2 separate regions of the Homo sapiens genome follow, and region 2 is linked to region 1. Evidence: fine-mapped expression QTL. A gene starts in region 1. The other region holds a variant in brackets. All regions are shown on one strand. Distances are from middle to middle.

Region 1 (5,370 bases):
AGTCTTGCTCTATCACCCAGGCTGGAATGCAGTGGCGTGATCTTGGCTGACAGTAACCTCTGCTTCCCCAGGTTCATGTGATTCTCCTGCCTTAGCCTCCTGAGTAGCTGGGATTACCGACGCACACCACCACGCCTGGCTAATTTTTGTATTTTTAGTAGAGACAGGGTTTCACCATGTTGCCTAGGCTGGTCTCGAACTCCTGGCCTCAAGTGATCACCTGCCTCGGCCTCCCAAAGTGCTGGAATAACAGGCTTGAGCCACCGCACCTGGCCAGGTTTTAATTTTATGTGATATGTCATCTTTATTTCAGAGATTATATAAATTCTGGTACACAGAAACACTGGGTGCATTGTTCATGGACTGATTCCTAACAAAATAAGAAAAATCAGCTGGGGCGGTAGCTCACGCCTGTAATCCCAGCACTTTGGGAGGCAGAGGTGGGTGCATCACCTGAGGTCAGGAGTTCAAGACCAGCCTGACCAATACGGTGAAACCCCATCTCTACTGAAAATACAAAAATTAGCCGGGTGTGGTGGTGGGCACCTGTAATCCCAGCTACTCAGGAGGCTGAGACAGGAGGATTGCTTGAACCCGGGAGGCGGAGGCTGCAGTGAGCTGAGATTGCGCCACTGCACTCCAGCTTGGACGACAGAGGGAGACTCCATCTCAATGAAGAAAAAAAAAAGAAAAAAAAAGAAAAATCACTAATGTGGTTTATTGCTGGACTTTATTAAAACCTCCCTTAGAGATCAGTGCTTCAACCATAGCTGCACATTCAAGTCACCTGAAGAGCTTTCAGAAATTCTGATGCGCAGGCATCACCCGAATTAAATCAGTCTCCCCAGTAGGGCCCAGGCAGGCCTCAGGAGCCCCCTAAATGAGTTCAATGTACAGCCGAGGGAGTACTCACTGTTTCCAAAAAAGATTAGCAACTGAACTCAGCGAGCAAATGCTGTTGTAGATAAGATTTTAACCACAGGCCGGGCGCGGTGGCTCACACCTGCAATCGCAGCACTTTGGGAGGCCGAGGCGGGCAGATCACCTGAAGTCGGGAGTTCGAGACCAGCCTGACCAACATGGTGAAACCCCGTCTCTACTAAAAATACAAAATTAGCTGGGTGTGGTGGCGCATGCCTGTAATCCCAGTTACAGGAGGCTGAGGCAGGAGAAGCGCTTGAACTCGGGAGATGGAGGTTGCTGTGAGCCGAGATCGCACCACGGCACTGCAGCCTGGGCTACAAGAGTGACGCTCTGTCTCAAAAAAAAAAAAAAAAAAAAAAGAAAAGGATTTTAACCACTTAGCTGCAGAATACTTTACCTGTAAGGGGGCCTGCGCTTCTCCCCAGCATACTGGAAAAGGTCATCAGTGAAAAACTTTGGCACCTTGTAGTCTTCCAAAAGTTTCCTTCTTTTAGGGTGTTCACCATAGCTGCTGTCAAAGATGTAAAGGGGACTATCATCTCGAGTGCTCTCCATGTACTCGATGTAGTATTTCATCTTCATCTTCACTGAGTAGCCATCGTTATCCTCACCACACTTGAACTTCTGGTTCCGATATTTCCTTTTTAGGCGCTCCAGAGTCCATTTCTCCTGCGCAGACCAGCCCTCTTGCGCATTCAACAAAACCACGGGCTTGTAAGGTCTTTCATACCGCTCCACAAATTCTTCCACAGACAGCTGTAAAGCATCTGCCCTTTCCACGTTATCCTGAGGGAATTAAAAAAGACCTGTCCAGTTAAAAAAAAAAAAAAAGTCCAGTGGCAGATAAGGGTGTCCCCAAGGCCAACTGGTAATGACAAACCGAAGGAAGTTGACTCTCGTCTGGCTCCTCCGGGGTGGGGGCAGGGCGCGTGCGTGAGGCCACGTCGTTCCTAGAGCCACCCCCCATGAGCCTTGACAGCCAGGTCCCCTAGGGGACCCGCCGCCCAAAGGAGTCAGGGACGACGGGCCTTCTAGTTGAGAGCGCCACAGGCGTGGGACTCCCGTCGTCCGCCAGAGCAGACGGGCGGCCACAGCACGGGAGGAAGCAGACCCGCCCCGGAATCCGCGCCTCGGGGACCCCAAACTCCGCGGGGTGCGGGTGAGCCTCTACGAGGTCCCGGGCGCTCGGGGCGAGGGCAGCCTCGGGCCCAGAGAAAGGTGCGTAGCGGCTGGAGGTGCCGATGCCCGGCCTGGCCACCCCCGCCCGACCCGCTCACCGCCACGGCCGCCGGGCTCAGCGAGAAGCTCTCGTAGTAGTTGTGCCGGGTCCAATCCAGCGAGTCCTTGAGCTCCGGCCGCGCACTCCGCTTGGCCTCGCGGATGCGCTTCTTGCTCTTGTGGTTCATTCTGCGGGGTCGCCAGCTGGTTCCGCTACGACCTCGGCGCAGCCCGCTTCCTGACACTAACGCACCCCTCCCCGGCCTGGGCGGCGGCGACGGCAGTACCCAAACGCCCTTCGCTCAGTCCCGGCGCCTTTAAAGTCGCCTTCCAGAAAATTCACTCCCCAGCCACCTCCCGAGCCTCGGGTTGGGCAAGCGGCCGCCGTCTTCCCCGCCCCGACGCCTCTCGCGGTTTTCCATTGGCTTTGGCTCCCCTGGGGTACTCCTTCACATACGGCGGGCCTCCGCCATGTTGGGAAGGTCACGTCGGCTGCGTCACCGCCCCGCCCCGCCCCGCCCCTCCCCTCCCGCGCTGCCGCTGTGCCCATCACTTCCGGTCGCGCCAGCCGCCCGTTGCCAGTTCTGCGCGTGTGAGTCTCTTTCGCCTTGCTCCGGGCTTTCTTCGCTCGCAGCGCGGCAGGGTTATCACCAGATCTGGGCTTTCCCCTTCTTGCCGTCAGGTGCTACGGCCACGTGGCCCGCGGCTTCCCGCTCGCGCAGTCTGGCAGCCCGGAGCCTTCCGCGGTCCCCCGCCCGCCCGGGGCCCAACGACGCCCTACTGGGCGAGCACGATTTCCGAGGACAGGGGGTCCGGGCCCAGCGCTTTCGATTCTCGGAGGAGCCGGGTCCGGGGGCCGACGGGGCTGTCCTGGAGGTCCACGTCCCGCAGGTGCGTGCAGCAGCACCCGCCAGGAGGCGCCTGAGGTCAGGAGCGGATGTCGGCTGACTTGGCTGGGTTCCTGAGGGACCGGGGGTGCGGACGCTCAGCTGCGCAGCTTCCTGCTTTAGGTTGACCCCCGGAGCAAAAACGTCGGATATGAAGCCCTTCGGTGCATTAAATGTCTCTCAGTAAGAATTTTGGAGACCCTGCCAAGAAGTGACCCTGGTCACTATGTTGGTCAGGCTGGTCTCGAACTGTAAGCTTAAGTGATCCTCCTGCCTCGGCCTCCCAAAGTGCTAGGATTACAGGCATGAGCCACTGCGCCGGGCCGGCTTTCTCCACATCGAATCTTTCCTGCCAGGAAAGTGACATTCTTGACTGACCTCTAATGCTTCTTTTGATCTTGTCCAAGGGTTTCTTGATTCATCCTTATCTCTCACTTTTGTGTGAGTTTTGGGATCAGGGTTTCCAGTTTTATTTGGTGCCCAAAGTGTTTCTTGGGTTGGACCTCGCTTCTTCCTCTAAGCTCACAGCTACAACAAAACTCTCAATAATAATTCTTTTTCTTTTCTTTTTTTTGAGACACTGTCTCGCTCTGGCGCCCAGGCTGGAGCGCAGTGGCGCGATCACAGCTCACTGCAACCTCCAACTCCCGGATTCAAGTGATCCTCCCGCCTGCCTAAGTGCTGGGATTGCAGGAGTGAGCCACCATGCCCTGCCTGTCTTCGGTTTTTCAAAGCACTTTCACTTTGCAGTATTTCATTTGGTTTTAACACCAGCCTGTGAGGCATGTCCCATGCTAAAGAAACAGCTTTAGAGAAGTTAAATGGGAGGCGGAGGCGGGAGGATCGCTTGGGACCAGGAGTTCCAGACCAGCCTGGGCAATATAGTGATACTACGTCTCTACAAAAAGTAGAAAAATTAGGCATCGTGGCTTGTGCCTGTAGCCCCAGCTACTCCGGAGGGTGAGGTGGGAGGATTGCTTGAGCCCGAGAGGTCGAGGCTGCTGTGAGCTATGATCAGGCCACTGCACTCAGGCATGAGCAACAGAGCAAGACATTGTCAAGAAGAAAAAAAAAAAAAAAGACTGGAGTGGAGGCTATTTCTGATTGTTTCCAAACAGCTTCACTTTTTTTTGCTAACTGCAACCTCAACCTCTGGGCTCAAGTGATCCTCCCACCTCAGCCTTTCAAGTAACTGAGACTACAGGCATTGGCCACCACACCCAATCTGGCTTCACGGATTTTTTTTTTTTTTTTTGGAGATGGAGTCTCGCTCTGTCACCCAGACGAGTGCAGTGGCACAATCTCAGCTCACTGCAACCTCCGCCTCGTGGGTTCAAGTGATTCTCCTGCCTCAGCCTCCCAAGTAGCTGGGATTATAGGCGCCCACCACCATGCCTGGCTAATTTTTGTATTTTTAGTAGAGACGGGGTTTTGCCATGTTGGCCAAGCTGATCTTGAACTCCTGACCTCAGGTGATGCACCTGCCTCGGCCTACCAAAGTGCTGGGATTACAGGTGTAAGCCACCGCTCCCGGCTGGCTTCACGTTTAAATACACTTGCATTTCTTCCTAAATGTAGGGGGTGATGATATTGCCTGTGAGAATAGAAGCCTCTTTCCTTTTTTTTTTTTTTTTTTGGAGTTGGAGTCTTGCTCTGTCGCCCAGGCTGGAGTGCAGTCGCGAGATCTCTGCTCACTGCAAGCTCTGCCTCCCGGGTTCACGCCATTTTCCTGTCTCAGCCTCCGGAGTAGCTGGGACTACAGGTGCCCACCACCATGTCCGGCTAATTTTTTTGTATTTTTAGTGGAGTAGAGACGGGGTTTCACCGCGTTAGCCAGGATGGTCTCGATCTCCTGACCTGATGATCCACCCACCTCGGCCTCCCAAAGTGCTGGGATTACAGGCGTGACCCACCACGCCCGGCCATTTTTTTTTGAAACGTAGTCTCACTATGTTGCCCAGGCTGGAGTGCAGTGGCGCAGTCTCGGCTCACTGCAACCTCCGCCTCCCGTGTTCAAGCGATTTTCCCGCCTCAGCTGGGATTACAGGCACGTGCCACCATGCCCGGCTAATTTTTTGTATTTTTAGTAGAGACAGGGGTTTCACCATGTTAGCCAGGCTGGTCTCAAACTCCTGACCTCAGGTGATCCGCCCGCCTCATCCTCCCAAAGTGCTGGGATGACAGGCCTGAGTCACCGTGCCCGGCCCCTGACTAGAAATATCTTATTTGCTTGCTCGTTGCCTCTCTACAGTAGGATATGTGCTCAGGGAGAGCTATATCCCCAGTCTGAGAATGATCCCTGATACTGTGACACTAGAAGCACTTGTTGAATAAACAGTGC
Region 2 (5,370 bases), 130 kb before region 1:
TCTCAAACTCCTGGGCTCAAGCGATCTGTCTGCCTCAGACACCCAAAGAGATTACAGGCATGAGCTCCCGTGCCTGGCCATCACATACTTCTTGAAAAACTCTAGATGCTGGACCTGGTTGCTGGGCAAATACAAAGCTGTAAGCAGGTTAAAAGAGAATGGCTAATTTGGGAGGACTGCACAACCAGAGGAAGGGAGACCAAAGGAAAGGAGACACCCAGAACTGTCTCCTACTGAAGGAGAATGAGGAAAGGACCAGGTGGGAACTTTAATCAAACAATTATAAGTGTCCTTGCCGGGCGCAATGGCTCACGCCTGTAATCCCAGCACTTTGGGAGGCCAAGGCAGGCCGATCACCTGAGGTCAGGAGTTTGAGACCAGCCTGGCCAACATGGTGAAAACTCGTCTGTACTAAAAATACAAAAATTAGTTGGGTGTGGTGGTGCGCACCGTAATCCTAGCTACTCAGGAGTGTGAGGCAGGAGAATCACTTGAACCCGGGAGGCAGAGGTTGCAGTGAGCTGAGATCGCACCATTGCACTCCAGCCTGGGTGACAGAGCAAGATTCTATCTCAATAATAATAATAATAATAATAATAATAAGCATCCTTGGGCCGGGTGCGGTGGCTCATGCCTGTAATCCCAGCACTTTGGGAGGCCAAGGTGGGCGGATCACCTGAGGTCAGGAGTTCAAGACCAGCCTGACCAACATGGCGAAACCCCTTCTCTACTAAAAATATAAAAATTAGCTGGGCATGGTGGCAGACACCTATAATCCCAGCTACTTGGGAGACTGAGGCAGGAGAATCGCTTGAACCCGGGAGGTGGAGGTTGCAGTGAGCTGAGATTGGCCCAATGTACTCTAGCCTGGGTGACAAGAGGGAAATTTCATTTCAAAAAAAAAAAAAAAAAGGAAGTGTTGCAAGCTTCCAAGGGCAAACGCATTTCCGTAGAAGGGAAAGAGAATTAACCTAACATTGGACTCTCTCTTGTTTCTAACATGAGAAGCTGGAGAACAATTTGGCAAGAGGACAAGTTTCTTGTGAGACGCGTGGGTATATTTATACATTCACAAATGCCCCCAGCCAGAAGTGATGTGTGTCTCCACGCCCAGCTAAGCACTGTGATGAATGATTCTGCTCTGGTTGTCTAAATGGTGTCTGCCTAAGTGAGAAACCTACCTATTCCCTTGGCCCAAACCCCTTTCTTGCCAAGCCTCTCTTCTGTACCCAAATTGTATCGCCTGACATGGTCCTGATTTCACTAGCCCCTGACTCTGAGACAATGATACTCATTGCTGTTTTCTAATACCCCCGAAGCAACGAGCAAGGTTAGACGAGTCCGATGAATCTGTAAGAGAGGAATTCTCCACCCATGCCTGGGGTTGGCTGTGTCAAGAGTTTGTCTTTCATCTCCTCCTACGCTCAGGAGTGCTGTGTCTGTGCAAAATGGCAGGGCGTGCAGACCCTGTTTCTTCCTGCCCTCGCGCTCAGCTAAGGGTAGACACCATATCGTGCATCACCTTGGGTGTGCTATTTGCCTTGAGTTTTTTTTTAGGTGGGGCTGGGGGGACAGGGTCTTACTCTGTCACCCAGCTTGGAGTACAGTGGCGCCGTGATCATGGCTCACTGCAGTCTTGAACTCCTGGGCTCAAGCTATCCTTCCACCTCAGCCTCCTGAGTAGCTAGGACTATAGATGCGCACCACCACACCTGGCTAATTTTTGTACTTTTAGTAGAGATGGGGTTTTGCCATGTTGCCCAGACTGGTCTTGAACTCCTGAGCTCAAGGAATCCGTTTGCCTTGGCCTCCCAAAATACTAGGATACAGGCATAAGCCACCACACCCAACCTGCCTTGAGATTCTGAGGAAGCTGGTGTGTGCGTGAGTGTGTGTGTGTGAGTGTGTGTGTGTGTTTGTGTATGTGAAGGGGGTCGGGGTCAGGCCTCTAGTTCCCTGTTCCCCAGTGCCAACACAGAACTATTCTTTGTGCCCACCCAGTATGTGATAATCCAGAAAATGCCACATTTTTGTATAAACCGATTTGCAAACAATTTTGTAGATAAGTATAAATCCTCAAGCTTGGTACAGTGTACTTTTCTCCTTCTGTGAACACAATGTTTGACTTTAAGCTTTCCTTTAAATACCAGTCAAAGCAGGGAATAGTGACTTATGCCTGTAATCCCAGTACTTTGGGAGGCCGAGGTGGGCCGATCGCTTGAGCCCAAGAGTTCGAGACAAGCCTAGGCGACATCGTGAGACCCTGTCTCTACCAAAAAGAGAGAAAAAAAGTTAACTGGGTGTGGTGGCACATATGCAGGAAGCTAAGGTGGGAGGATCGTTTGAGCCTGGGAGTTCAAGGCTGCAGAGAGCTGCAATAG[C/T]GCCACTGCACTCCAGCCTGGGTGATGGGGTGAGACCCTCTCTCAAAAATAAATACATACAGTCAACAGGACATGTGAGGACTGCCATGGAGACCAGCATGAATGCAACACTATCCTCTGAGTACACTTTAGACTTTCCATTACTATCACCAGAAAGGGGTCCCAATCCAGACCCCAAGAGAGGGTTCTGGGATCTCATGCAATAAAGAATTTAGGGTGAGTCCAGAGTAAAGTGAAAGCAAGTTTGTTAGAGAAGTAAAGAAACAAAAGAATAGCTATTCCATAGGCAGAGCAGCCCCAAGAGCTGCTGGGTGGCTATTTTTTTTATTTATTTTTATTTTTAGTAGAGATGGGGTTTCATGGTGTTAGCCTGGATGGTCTCAATCTCCTGACCTTGTGATCCACCCGCCTCCGCCTCCCAGTGGGTGGCTATTTTTATGGTTATCTCTTGATCATATGCTAAACGAGGAGTGGATTATTATGTTTTCCAGGAAACGGGTGGGGATTTTTTGGAAATGAGGTTTCCTCCCCCTTTTAGACCATATAAGGTAACTTCTGAACGTTGCCATGGCATTTCTAAGCTTTCATGGTGCCGGTGGGAGTGACTTTAGCATGCTAATGCATTATAATTAGCATATAATGGGCAGTGAGGACTATTAGAGGTTACATTTGTTGCCATCTTGGTTTTGGCTGGCTTCTTTACTGCATCCTGTTTTATCAGCAGGGTCTTTGTGACCTGTATCTTGCGAGCTCCTATCTCACCCTATGACTAAGAATGTCTAACCCCCTAGGAATGCAGTACAGCAGGTCTCAACCTCATTTTACCCAGTCCCTATTCAAGATGGAGTCACTCTGGTTGAAGTGCCTGTAACATTACTAACACAAATATCTGTCCTGCTTCTGAATCTCTCTTGATCTCTCCAATGCACCCTCGACCCAGGAGCAACTTTTGGACCCTTTGCCTACTCCTCACTGCAAAAAAGAACAAGATCAAAAACTGCTGATCCTAGGCTGGGCATGGTGGCTCACACCTGTAATCCCAGCATTTTGGGAGGCCAAGGCAGGCGGACCGCCTGAGGTCGAGAGTTTGAGACCAGCCTGGCCAACATGGCGAAATCCCGTCTCTACTAAAAATACAAAAATTAGCCAGGTGTGGTGGCAGGCACCTGTAATCCCAGCTACTCGGGAGGCTGAGGCAGGAGAATCACTTGTACCTGGGAGGCAGAGGTTGCAGTGAGCCCAGATCGTGCCATTACATTCCAGCCTTGGCGAGAGAACAAGACTTTGTCTCAAAAAAAAAACAAAAAACCCAAAAAAACTGCTGACCCAGAAGCAGAGAATTGCGAGACGTGTTAGATCTGTACTTTAACCTTTTAAATCCTCTAAAACAGCTGAATTAGTTGTCTAAGTCCCAGGCATGTGAGAAAAGAGGAAAAATAATGTTAAATCCGTGAGTAACTGTGTGAGCCCTTGCACCAGTGACTCTGAAAGGCGGAAGAGAAAGAGAGACTGGGGTTGTTGAAAGATAAATTATGCTGCAACGTTTAATGGATAAGCCATGGTTTACCCACCGGTAAAACACTCAATTCCTGGCCCAGGCTTTGAATCATTGCAAGGGCACTCCTTGGGAAGAGGACATAGTTGGAGGCTGTTAGTCTGTTTTTACATTGCTATAAATACCTGACAGTGGATAATTTATAAAGAAAAGAGGTTTAATTGGCTCATTGTTCTGCAGGCTGTACAGGAAGCATGGTGCCCACATCTGCTTGGCTTCTGGTGAGGCCTCAGGGAGCTCTTATTCATGGCGGAAGGTGAAGTGGGAGCAGGCATGTCACTTGGAGAGAGAGCAATAGAGAGAAGGGAGAGGTCCCAGACTCTTAAACAACCAGACCTTGCATGAACTAACTGAGCAAAACTCACTTATCACCAAGGGGATGTTGCTGAGCCATTCATGAAGGATCTACCCCATGATCGAATCACCCCCCATCAGGCCCCACATCTAACATTAGGAATCATGTTTCAACATGAGGTTTGGAGGGGACACACATCCAAACCATATCAGAGGCCGTAGAGTTTGGAAGCCTGAACTTGCACTTGGGGTTTTTGGTCTAAGCTGGAAGGAGTCAAGAAAAAGGATGGGGCTGGGCGCGGTGACTCACACCTGTAATCCCAGCACTTTGGGAGGCTGAGGTGGGCAGATCACTTGAGGTCAGGAGTTCAAGACCAGCCTGGTTAAGATGGTGGAACTCCGTCTCTACTAAAAATACAAAAATTAGCCAGGCGTGGTGGTGCACACCTGTGATCCCAGCTACTCAGGAGGCTGAGGCAGGAGAATTGCTTGAACACAGGAGGCAGAGGTTGCAGCGAGCCAAGATCACACTATTGCACTCCAGCCTGGGTGGCAAGAGCAAGACTCCATCTCAAAAAAAAAAAAAAAAAAAAAGAGAGACAGAGATGGGAACTATGATTTTTTAAATAATTTTTTTTTTACTTTTTTTTTTTTTTTGAGACGGAGTCTCTGCTCACTACAACCTTTGCTTCCCAGGCTCAAGAAATTCTCCCGCCTCAGCCTCCTGAGTAGCTTGGATTACATGTGCCCGCCACCATGCCCAGCTAATTTTTGTATTTTTAGTAGAGACGGGGTTTCACCATGTTGGCCAGGCTGGTCTCGAACTCCTGACCTCAAATGATCCTTCTGCCTTGGCATCCCAAAGTGCTGGGATTACATGTGTGAGCCACTGTGCCCCACCTAATTTTTTTTTTTTTTAAATAATAGAGAAGGGGTTTTGCCATATTGCCCAGGCTGGTCTCAAGCAATCCTCCCACCTCAGCCTCCCAAAATGTTGGGATTACAGGTGTGAGCCTCCATACCTGGCCAGAGTGGGAGCTATGTTTTTTTTTTTTTTTTTTTTTTTTTGAAATGGAGTCTCACTATATCACCCAGGCTGGAGTATGTAGTGGCACTATCTCGGTTCACTGCAATCTCTGC

The links. PIP is the estimated chance that this variant, and not a neighbour inherited with it, causes the effect. A credible set is the group of variants that fine-mapping cannot tell apart.
Region 2: its variant is the best candidate, but not a certain one, in a credible set for the expression of JMJD6 in whole blood (TOPMed, PIP 0.63).

The regions. Positions count from the first base shown.
Region 1 is chr17:76,724,146-76,729,515 of GRCh38, forward strand. It overlaps JMJD6 (jumonji domain containing 6, arginine demethylase and lysine hydroxylase), which reads right to left and starts at 2,461. Exons shown (of 6, transcript NM_015167.3): 1 at 2,202-2,461; 2 at 1,322-1,710. The coding sequence starts at 2,330. METTL23 (methyltransferase 23, arginine) reads left to right here and starts at 2,694. Exons shown (of 5, transcript NM_001080510.5): 1 at 2,694-3,033. RefSeq lists enhancers at 2,334-2,963, 3,594-4,222, 4,880-5,370 and silencers at 2,385-2,514, 2,625-3,074.
Region 2 is chr17:76,598,910-76,604,279 of GRCh38, forward strand. No RefSeq gene overlaps it. Among named protein-coding and RNA genes, the nearest start is that of ST6GALNAC2, 16 kb to the left of the region's middle. RefSeq lists a silencer at 2,178-2,472 and enhancers at 2,323-3,522, 2,849-3,396, 3,397-3,943. The variant C/T (reference allele first, on the strand shown) is at 2,382.